2 separate regions of the Homo sapiens genome follow, and region 1 is linked to region 2. A link means that fine-mapping ties the variant in region 2 to the expression of a gene that starts in the linked region. Tissue or cell type: whole blood. Region 2 holds a variant in brackets; the other region holds the start of a gene. All regions are shown on one strand. Distances are from middle to middle.

The links. PIP is the estimated chance that this variant, and not a neighbour inherited with it, causes the effect.
Region 1: it holds the start of NUDT16L1, and the variant in region 2 is fine-mapped to the expression of NUDT16L1 in whole blood (TOPMed, PIP above 0.99).

What each region holds. Positions count from the first base shown.
Region 1 is chr16:4,690,661-4,696,075 of GRCh38, reverse strand. NUDT16L1 (nudix hydrolase 16 like 1) reads right to left here and starts at 2,514. Exons shown (of 3, transcript NM_032349.4): 1 at 2,197-2,514; 2 at 1,838-2,098; 3 at 232-1,118. The coding sequence starts at 2,349. The coding sequence ends at 897. It overlaps MGRN1 (mahogunin ring finger 1), which reads right to left. Exons shown (of 17, transcript NM_015246.4): 17 at 5,104-5,415. RefSeq lists enhancers at 484-984, 1,587-2,094, 2,095-2,602, 2,854-2,943 and silencers at 1,694-2,193, 2,304-2,663, 5,326-5,415.
Region 2 is chr16:4,668,171-4,674,099 of GRCh38, reverse strand. It overlaps MGRN1 (mahogunin ring finger 1), which reads right to left. Exons shown (of 17, transcript NM_015246.4): 8 at 5,788-5,835; 9 at 2,641-2,709; 10 at 443-602. It overlaps MIR6769A (microRNA 6769a), which reads right to left and starts at 2,782; the gene lies at 2,710-2,782. RefSeq lists enhancers at 1-442, 443-1,032. The variant CAGGGACCTGG/G (reference allele first, on the strand shown) is at 3,347.

The DNA of each region.
Region 1 (5,415 bases), 22 kb before region 2:
GCCAGGGCCACCAGGATCAGGAAGGGGAGCCTGCCCTGAAGGTCTCGGCCCAGACGCCCCAACCTGGCTGATGGGCACAGCATTCATGCTGGGAGTGCCCCCAGTAAACACTGGGGAACAAACGTGCCCCTGGCTGGGGCAGCTCCTCCCTCCCCCACCTAGGGCAGGGGGCCTGAGCTGGTTCCATCCAGAACCAAAACAAACACACAGGGCAGCTGAGAAACACACAGAGCAGCTGCGGAGCGACTTTATTGTCTTCTCCTTCGACAGCTTCGTTGTACATAGCTGGGCCCCCGAGGCCCTGACTGTCCCTGGGAACCAAGCCACGTGGGGTGAAGCTACTTTGAAACCTCACCCACAGTTCACACGTGGTGAAAGAGAAAATCTAGCAAAGTAAATCCAACAACAACCCAAATTAACAGTATTATTAACTTCCTACCCCAAGCTGGCTCTCCCCCAGGCCCTGAACTGGCTCAGGAAGGAGGCAGGAATGAGCTGACCGAGACAAGGCATCCTCCACCCACACATCCCATCTTCTGAGTGGTCCCAGAGCTGTGCGCCACCCCTGTGGGACAATCAGGCACTCCTGGGTCTCTACCAGCTGTGATGAGACGTACAAGAGGAGGGTCTGAGCCCAGAATAAACAAGAGCATCCTGAGGCTGGAGAGGCAGGCCCAGTGTGCCCGGACCACCCTGCTCTGCCTGAGAGGATGGGCTGGGTTCCAGCTGGCCCGGCCGCCACCTAGTGACTGCTTGGGACAGTGGAGATGATGACAGGATGCCCACTCGCCCTAGGCAGTCAGAAGCGGGGTACACACAAACACTCTAGAAGCCACACTTAGCAGGAATTCCCAGTCTTCCGGCCCAGGGGAGGGTGCCACCAGCTCAGGCAGCCCTCAAGAGGAGGCCGGGAGCAACTTCTCCAGGGCCTTCTTCTGCTTCTCGGTGGCTGCAGCCAGGGCCTCAACCAGCTTCTCCTCGGGCATCATGTTGAGCACCTTGAGGGCAAAGAGGAGCTGGCACTTAGCCGTGCTCACGAAGGCGTTGCTCAGGAAGTTGGGGAAGCCTCCGACTCGGTCCTTCTGGGTGTACAGCGGGACCCGCACGAGGCCCAGCACCTGCGCAGACAGGAGGTAGGGGTTGGGGCCAGGCCTGCCACACAATGGCACCTCCAGCAGGAGGGGCCTGGAAGCTATGAGGCCAGGGTATGAGCAGCCAGCTTTGCCAAGGACTTAATGGGAGACCCACGCAGGGCCTGGCAGAAGCCAGCCAGCTCCCTCGGAGCAGTGCAGCCCCCTCCTCCCCAAGCAAGTGTGGAGGCTGACCCCATGCACTCCCCCCCCTCGTACCCAGGCCACCCCACCCCGGGGTCCGCACCCCATGCTCCCCCCGTCCACCCAACGAAGCCTGAACACCCGCAGTCCAGCCCTTCCAGACCACAAAGTACAAATCCCAAGAGCCTTCACGCCCAACATGAGGTTCCCAAGTTTTACAACCCCCGCTGTGCTCAAGTTTCCCAACTCCCCAAGCAATCCCCGCTCCTCCCCCATCCCTTCCTCCCCACCGATCCCACTCCCCCACTCCCAGGATTGGCAATGGCAGGCAGCAAGGCGGATGTAACACAGCCCTGAGGGAGCCCCAGCGCCGGCCCCCACCCCCGCCCCTCCTTTCCCGGCCTCCCAGCCCCAGACCCCTCTCCCCACCCCATTGCTGGAGACAGCGACACCCGACCCAGCCCGGCCAGGGGACCCTCAGGAGACGTGTTACCCATCGGTGCCTTCCACGGGGCCAGAGCCAAACCCCGGGGCGGGGGGCGGGGCCCGGGCGGCGGCCCCACCTCCAGGCCGTGGTCGCGCGAGTGCACCGCGCTGATCTCCACGGCGTGCAGCTGCTCCAGCGTCAGCTGCCGCGCGTACAGGTGCGCCACGACGCGGTGTGGGCCCTCGGTCAGGTGCGAGCTCAGGTAGTCGGCCTCGGTGAGGCGCAGGCAGCCCAGGCCCAGGCCCAGCACCCGGTTCAGGCCGTCCTCCAGCGACCAGAAGCGCCGGTCCACGAAGCCCCCGGGGAAGCCCAGCAGCCCGTCGAAACGCATCTGCATCTGCAAGGGAGCGCGGGTCACAGCCGCGGGGTCGACGGACGCCCCCGCCCGGGCCCGCCCGCGCCGGCACCCTCGCCCGCGCCCTCGCCCGTCCTCACCAGCACCGAGAAGCGCATGGGGATGCGGCCGAAGAGCTGCCCAGGGTTGGCGGCGTACAGCATGGCGTGGCACGAGTGGCTCCAGCCCGGCCCTAGGCGCATCGCCTCCACCCGGCTGATCTGCTTCAGCTCCGGAACCGCCGCCGTCGACATCTTGGCACTGACCCCGTCCCCGCCGCTGCCACTTAAGAGCATGCGCGAGCCCGCCCCCGCCGTGCCTCGCCAATCCGCGGGCGGCCGCGCCCCCGGGTCCGGTTCCCCCGCCAATCGCCGGCGCGCCCCGGGACCGAGCCCCTCGCAGCGCCGCGGTGCGTCGTCGAGAGGTGCTGCGGGCGGTGTGCAAAGGAGGGCGGTGCGCGTCAGCCGTCACCCAATAGTCGCACACCCTGGGCGGCGGCCCCGCCTCCGACGGGAGAGCCTAGACGACTGGTCGGTGCCGTGGTGGCTCAAGGTTGACATTGTGGGCGACGAACATCTTCCTTGGCGCCCCAAAGCGGACAGCCGAAATTCCCTGCGGTTTCTCCACCCTCGATGGCGCCGATCCCCTTGCGCCCACCCGTTTCTCCCCAGGAGGCCGACCCGGCCCGCATGGCCCCGTCCATCCGCAATGGCACCCTTGGCACGACCACACGAGCCAGAGATGCCCCGGAGCCTTGCTCCGCCAGCGCCACCGGACCCAAGCCCGGAGGGAGATGGCCTTCGCCTGCCATGCACGACAGCTGTCCCGACCTAGCCACCCTGCTGGCAGGCTCGATCCAGGACAGCACGGGGAGCAGGGCTTGGCAGGGCTTGAGTGCCCCAGTCCCCGAGTCCACGCTGGGTCAGGGCGGACGACCGGGAGCTCTGGGGCTCTGTGGACCCAGCTTGCTGGGCAGAAAGTGACTTAAATTCCGGGGCTGGACCTTTCCAGCATCCTCCAAGCCGGGCACCCTGTGCCAGGTACTGTGGGGGGAAGAGGGGTTTCCCCAATTTACGATGAGGAACTTGGAGCTCAGAGAGGGACATAACTTGCCTAAGTACAACTGGCAGTTGATGACAGAGGCAGAATCCCGATTCCACAAGGGCCTGAGGTACTTACCACTTACCTTGTGTTTGTACTGGAGATGTCTCTGGGGCTCAGAAGCATCCGAAACAGCCCAAGGCAGAGCGAGGTGCCCTGAACTCCATGATGGCAAGGCTCACCTCACCAGCAGCAGGGCCCAGGGCCACTTTCCTCCCCACCAGGGGAATGGATTTGCTGAGCACATGAACCCCCCTGCCTGCACTCACAGCATGGGTGCCCAGGGCTGGGGCACAGCCTCGGGAGAGCCGTGCAGTGAGGCCGAGCTCGCTGGCACAGAGAAGGCTGCCTTCAGTGGAGGCAGGCAGGAGAAGAGAGAGGGAGAGGGTGGGCATTGGAAACTCACCTGTTAGGTCCGTGGTGGCCTCAGATGTGGAGAATAAGGACCCAGAGAGGGCACCTCTCTCTCCTCCTGTGGCCACCAGTGGGTCAGGGGTCACATGGGACAGCTGCAAGCAGCAGGGGAAGTCCAGATTCCAGAGTGAGCGACCATGTGAGAAGGCGAGAGGGCAGCGAGGGGAAGGGTCCTCTCACCCAAAGAGGGCCCCACCCCTAGGCAGCCAAGCCCAGCCAGCGCCCAGGGCCCGTGGGACGCAGGGGCAGAGGAGGAGAGGCTCCCCTTGCTGCAGCCCCTCCCCGAGACCAGACATCAATACAAGCGCTGGCTCTTCTGGGAGGTACAGAGGGGGAGCCCATCTGGCCCATGCAAGCACCCGTCTGACACCCTGGGCACCCCTCTACCCACACTGGGATGGGGCCAGACCCAGGCAGGTCAGAGCAGCTGCAGGGCCCATGGGTGGCAGCCTTCTCGGGGCAGGGACTGATGGGCTAGAACACGGGCTTTCCCTCCACCCTCACAGTCTTCAAAGAAGGGCCATGGTGGCAGCTTGACCTGCACGCAAAGGAGCTGGGGCCCTGAGTGGTAGGCAGTGGTGTGGTGGGTGCCCTGGGGCACTGGCCACTCCCTGGGCAGGGGAGCGGGGGCTGTGCAGAGGCCTGGGGCCGGGCTCCAGCCTGCGAGCCCACAACCATGGGCAGCTAGACCTGCTCCCACCGTCCGGCCTCCACACGCCAGCCGCAGGGTGCTAGCACTGCTTCTCCGCTTGGAAGCCTGTTTTTAAAACTGACTCCCCCTTATAAAAACACTCCAGCAGCCCCTACAAGCTCTTCAGTATCTATCCAGCACCCTTCACTCCAGCCAGGGGCTCCGTCCCCAGGGGACACATCAGGCTCACTCCTGCCACCTGGAACACTCTTCCAGGGCCAGCTCCTCCTCAGCCCTCAGGGCTGTTTAAGTCTCCTCAGAGAGGCCCTCCCTGCCACCCGGTTAAATGAGACCTTGTACGGGTTCATCTCACCACCATGCTGACTTTCTTCCTAATAGTAACCAAACCTGGCAGGATTCTGATTAGCTGCTGGGCATCTCACTGCCTGGAAGGCAGGCGCCCGGGGCCAGGGCCGGGGCCTCAGCTCTTCTGCCTCCACTGACGCACAGCAGGTGCTCAGCAAATGCCTTGAGATGATCAGGACTAGAGATGGGGACCGGAGCGACTACTCACAAACCTGGAGGCCCTGGGCTCCCCAACCACCTGTTCACGAGAGAGCCCAATCTGGAGGGTGTGGCTTCCCTCCAACCAGACAACTAGCCCTGACAGGGATGGCTGGGAGCTGCCCGTTCTCGTTAGCCCTCACCTTGCTCACTGCCCTGACCCCAGAGGGAAGCCAGGCAGAGGCCGTGGAGCTGCCACGGTGCGGGAGCCACCGCCAACCACCCAGCGGCAAAACTCCGGGTCAGGAAACAGCCACAATCCTGAGGGCTGCACCCGGAGGAAGGAGCAGACAGGATATTGCTGCATGATTTTATTACTATAAATATACAGTAAAAACGAACCAACGATGAGCCCATCTGAGCACATCAGACGGCAGCACATGGGAGTCCCAGCGGGCCACTCTGCGGCCCGAACTTCACGCAAAGCTCTGGCACCAGGACTGATGGCCAGAGGCTGGGGCCTTGGTGGGGGCGGGGGGCGGGCGGTGCAGGGGGCTGTGTGTGTTGTTGGGGAGAGGTGCATGGGGGGAGAGAGGTGCTTGGGGTGGGGTAGAGGTGCGTGGGAGATGCTCGGTCCGAGTGCACACACATGCATGGGAACATGTGCAGG
Region 2 (5,929 bases):
GACAGGAGAATTGCTTGAACTCAGGAGGCAGAGGTTACAGTAAGCTGAGAACTCGCTACTGAACTCCAGCCTGGGCGACAGCACGAAACTGTCTCAAACAAAAAATAATAAAAATAAAATAAGAATAAAGATTTCATTCACTCATCAATTTTCGTTCAGTTCATCTGCCCTGGAGCGCCTCTGTAGCCCTTTGTTCTGCAAGCCTTGCCTGGCTGGAGGCAGACGTGAAGATCTGAATGCCCCGTGCTAGCGTCCCTGCCAGCTCTCTCACGGTGACTGACTCCGACAGCCAACACGCCCACGTTCAGCACAGACTAGATGAATGACAACTCTTCTTTCTTAGCCATCAACGGACCTGTGGCCCCCTATCCCAGGACCACCGTGGTGTGGCCAGTCCCTAATTTCCAGAACCTTCCACAGAACAGCCGGCCGGGGAACTCACGCAGCCGGCAGATGGGGCAGTTGTTGGCCTGGTAGCGCAGCGTGTCGGCGCAGGAGGTACAGAGGCACAGGTGGCGGCAGGGCAGGATCAGCGTGTCCCGCAGGTCGGACAGGCACACCACACACTCGTTGCTGTTGTCGCTGTTCTCGTCGTCCGAGGGCTGCCGGGACAAGGGCTTGTGGGTCAGCAGCCTCCCAAAGGCCAGAGTACGGCTCCTGCTTCCTGTCCCCAGCTGTCCCACCCCACTCCACCCTACCCTGGGGGCTGTCATGACAAAGAGAAGTCCAGAGGGGAGGGGGAGGTTGCCCCAGAGCAGAATCACCAGGCTCAAATCCAGTGCAAACTCAGCACCTGGCAGAGGGGGAGGGTCTGTGCCCCTCACCCACCCAAATCATGAGAACATGGTCTCTTTCTGTTCTTCAGACCTAAAGAAAAAATGAGGAACAGATGCACCTAAGAAACACATCTTCCTGAGGGTCAGGGTACCCGTTATCTTTGGTTTAAAAAAAACCAAGTTAATGGTCAGGCGCGGTGGCTCACGCCTGTAATCCCAGCACTTTGGGAGGCTGAGGCGGGCAGATCACGAGGTCAGGAGATCGAGACCATCCTGGCTAACATAGTGAAACCCCGTCTCTACTAAAAATACAAAAAATTAGCCGGGCATGGTGGCACGTGCTTGTAGTTCCAGCTACTCAGGAGGCTGAGGCAGGAGAATGGCGTGAACCCAGGAGGCGGAGCTTGCAGTGGGCCAAGATGGCTGCCACTGCACTCCAGCCTGGGCAACAGAGCAAGACTCCATCTCAAAACAAACAAACAAAAAAAACAAAAAACAAGTTAATATGTTAGAAGTATTTTCATTAATGGCAGCTACCAGAAACCACATTAGCAACTGGACAAAAAGAAAGCCAAAAATCTAAAACAGGTGTCCACAAACTAGGCCTGTGGCCTGTTTCTATAAATAAAATCTTACTGGAACACCGCCACACCCACTCATTTTTATACAGTCCCCGCTGCTCCTGTTGTAATGGCAGCGTGGAGTCAGTGCAACAGAGACCATATGCCCGGGCGGCTGAAAACATTCCCTCTCTGAACCTTTTCTCAAAGTGGGCCGCCCCCTGGTATGAAACATGAATGCACTGACTTCCCTGGGTTGAGGCGAGGCCCGGCCAGGTGCTCCGCTCCCGCCACGTGGAGCTGCTCCAGTTGTCCTGGGCCCAGATGCCATAATGAAGCGGGCCTGTGAGACTTTCCAAGAGATCTTAAGAGGCAGGAGTTTCACTCATGTCAGTGTGCCTTTTAACAAGTTCATCGACCAGGCGTGGTGGTCTCAGGCCTGAAATCCCAGCACTTTGGGAGGCTGAGGCAGGCAGATCACTTGAGATCAGAAGTTTGAGACCAGCCTGGCCAACATAGTGAAACCCCATCTCTACTAAAAATACAAAAATTAAAAATTAGGCTGGGCGCGGTGGTTCACGCCTGTAATCCCAGCACTTTGGGAGGCCGAGGAGGGTGGATCACAAGGTCAGGAGATCAAGACCATCCTGGCCAACATGGTGAAACCCCGTCGCTACTAAAATACAAAAAATTAGCCGGGTGTGGTGGCGCGTGCCTGTGGTCCCAGCTACTCAGGAGGCTGAGGCAGGAGAATCGCTTGAACCCGGGAGGCGGAGGCCACAGTGAGCCAAGATCTCCCTGCTGCATTACAGCCTGAGCAGCAGAGTGAGACTGACTCAAAAAACAAAAACAAAAAAAACTAATTTCATCCCCTGCTACATTCCCTGACTGGGGTACACCACGGCTTATTTGTCAGGCACCAGGACTGGTTCTATGGACATACAGAATAAGCATCCCTCCCCCAGGAGCTGCAGGGACGTGCTGTCTCTGGGGAGGCGGGCAGGAGCCGGGCAGCAGGGTGCCACACACCTGAGCCTAGAGGGTGAGACACTGGCCCCCATTCCTGGGCTGCCCTGGGGAACCTGGATGGCAATTTACATCAGAAGCTAGTGAATTTGCTGGAGAAAGGATAAAATGTTCCCTAAACTGTTAGCTTTAAAAAAAATTAAGGAAAAATGATGTTGTCTAGCGGGTCTAGGACTCCAGGGGAAGGCATGGAAGGGAACCGGCAAGCATTGCTGTCCGCGGCTGCTCCTGGTGTGGGCTTCTGTAATGGCAGAGGGAAACCTCACCCAGATACACACCTTGGTCTCCTGGTTGTTCTTGTTCTCAATGCCATAGATCTCCTGCAGGAGGTAGCTGACCCGGTCCACCTGGAGAGCAGAGAGGGGCTCACTGGGCCCTCGCCAACTGCCATATGAGGGCTCCTCCATACCCACCTGGCCTAGCCCTGCCTCCAACTTACCAGGCTTCCATACCAGGGGTCAGTCCAGCTCAACCCCTGGGGGCCAGGAGAAGGGCAGGGAAAACCTGCTGCTTGCCCCCACCCAACCAGCAGCACCTGGAACAGGGCTGGAGCCGGTGGCTCTCCCCACTACTGGGGGCCTGAAGCCAACCCACAGGCCCAACCACCACCCCCTGACCGCCTCACCACCCCCAACACCACTTGGCTCCACCACCACCAGCCCCACGAGGAAAGCAGGAGCTGACGCCTGAAGGCACCAGACAGCAGCCTAAGTTCCCACTGCTTTCCAGATCCTCCTTCCAAAAGGCATGAAGCCTCTCTGGTTTCAAAGACGCCAAAGCAATGTCTCCAAGCTGATTCTGTCCTGCCACCCACTTGCAACCAAAAAGCCTCACGCTGACCACATTGCAAAGCGGTTTGTGCTGCTGGGTTTCCCAGAGACCATGGGCCAGGAGCACCACTCCAGGGAGCCCAGGGCCTGCTGGTCAGCTCTCTCAACACAAGGCCCTGACCATCACTGGGGTCTCCTGTTCCCCTGGTACCTG[CAGGGACCTGG/G]ACCTGCTAGAGTTTGCTGCACCTCTCTTTTGTTTATTGTGATTTACATTTTAAATAGACAGGATCTCGCTACATTGCCCAGGCTGGTCTGGAATCCCCAGGCTCAAGCAATCCTCCTGCCTCCACCTCCCATAGTGCTGGGATCATAGGCATAAGCCACTGCACCTGGACAAACTCTCTTCTAAAAAGCTAACAGATGGCCGGGTGCAGTGGCTTACACCTATCATCCCAGCACTTTAGTAGGAGGCCGAGGCTGGTGGATCACTTGAGCCCAAAAGTTTGAGACCAGCTTGGCCAACATGGCAAAACCTCATCTCTACAAAAAATACAAAAATTAGCCAGGCATGGTGGCGCGTGCCTGTAGTCCCAGCTACTCGGGATGCTGAGGCAGAAGAATCACTTGAACCCAGGAGGTGGAGGCTACAGTAAGCTGGGATCATGCCACTGCACTCCAGCCTCGGCGACAGAGTGAGACTCCATCTCAAAAATACAAAACAAAATAAAACAAAACAAATTAACCAACTGTGGTGGCGCACACCTGCAGTCCCAGCTACTTGGGAGCCTGAACGAGAAATCACTTGAACCTGGGAGACAGAGGTTGAAGTGAGCTGAGATCGCGCCACTGCATTCCAGCCTGGGCAACAGAGCGAGACTCTGTCTTGTCTCAATAAAATAAAATTAAAATTAAAATTAAATTAAATATTTAAAAAATTAAAAACTAACAAAAATCATTCCCAAGTGGTGGCTTGAAACAGGTCTTATGCGCCCCAACAGTACACACGGAGTAACTGTTAGCTGTGGCCTAGGACATCTCATTAGCAAGATCTAACACTGCTGTTTAGGGCACCCCATCCTCTAAATTCTCGGTGCCTACTTGTGAGGCCACCAGGAATAACACTTCCCAATGCAGCATCCCAGGATCGCTGACCCCAGAGAACAGATGTACTGCTCTATAGCTCCATTTATTCTCAACTATTTAATCCTTCTTTTCAAGTATTGATGAAGTCAAGCTAAGTCTCTGTCCAATACTGACATATTGGACAATTTGTAAGGAAGAGGAGAAGGAGTTGCAGACTTTGTTTCTGGTCTCTTTCCTTCCTTTTCCATCCATCCATTCGGCAAATATTTACTTAACACTATGTTCCAGACACAATGGCTCAAACTGGACAGAACTCAGGGCCTGCAGGCGTCCCTGTACATGGCGGGCACGCAAAACATATATGCTCACCCAAGACAGGGACCCGTCGTCCCAGAGCTTAGAGCTCTACAGGGAAGTCAACAGGCTGTTGCACAGCTTTTTTTTTTTTTTTTTGACACAGTCTTCCTCTGTCACCCAGGCTGGAGTGCAGTGGCATGATCTCGGCTCACTGCAACCTCCACCTCCTGGGTTCAAGCCATTCTCCTACCTCATCCTCCTGAGTTGCTGAGATTACAGGCATGTGTTATTATACCCGGTTAATTTTTTTATTTTTAGTAGAGACGGGGTCTCACCATGTTGGCCAAGCTGATATCAAACTCCTGGGCTCAAGTGATCTGCCCACCTCGGCCTCCCGAAGTGCTGGGATTACAGGCGTTAGCCACTGCGCCCAGCCCCTGCACAGTTATTTCAAAGGCAGCAGCAAGGGTAGCCTAGGAAGACCAGTGCATGAAGACTACTGAAGAGTGTGTGTGTGTGTCTATATATAAGTGTGTGTGAGTATATGTGTGTCTGTACATATGTGTATGTGTGTGTGTCTATGTGAGTGTATGCGTCTTTGTATATGTGCGTGAGTGATTGTATGAGTGTGTCTATGTATATGTGTGCAAGTGATTGTGTGTATGTATGTCTGTATATGTGTGCGAGTGAATGTGTGTCTATGTATATGTGTATGAGTATACATGTGAGTTTATGTGTGTGAGTATATGTGTGGGTATGTGTATGAGTGTGTGTCTGTATACGTGTGTGTATGTGTATATGTGTATGAATGTCTATGTGTGTGTGAATGGGTATATGTGTGTGTATCAGTATGTGTCTATGTATATGTGAGTGAGTGTGAGTGTATGTGTGTATGTGTACGAGTGTGTCTATGTATATGTGTGTGACTGAGTATATGAGTGTGTCTGAGTGTGTGCATCTGAATGACTGCATGTGAGTGTGAGTGTATGTGTGTATGAGTGTCGTGTCTGTATGAGTGTGTGCGAGTAGGAGTGTGTTTATGTGTGTATGTGTGTGTCTGTGTGTTTATGTGTCTATATATGTGTGAATGTGAGTGTCTGATGGTATGTATGTGTGTCCGTATATATGTGCAAGTGAATGTGTATGAGTGTGTATGAGCGTGTATGAGTATATGTGCGTGTGTATGAGTGTGTGTCTATGTATGAGTATGCGTGTGAGTGATTGTATATGTGTGTCTTTTAATTCAAGCACGTCATATTTCCTCTGATGACTTACAATTTGCTTCTGCTTTAAAGGCTTCACAGAGAAGCTGCCGTCCATGTGCTGCAGGGGAGAAAGACAAAGAGGTTAAGGTGGTCAAGCTGGCGCCTCTGAGCACCCCTGCGTGGCCGCCTGGGTTGGCCACCCTGCCCCAGCC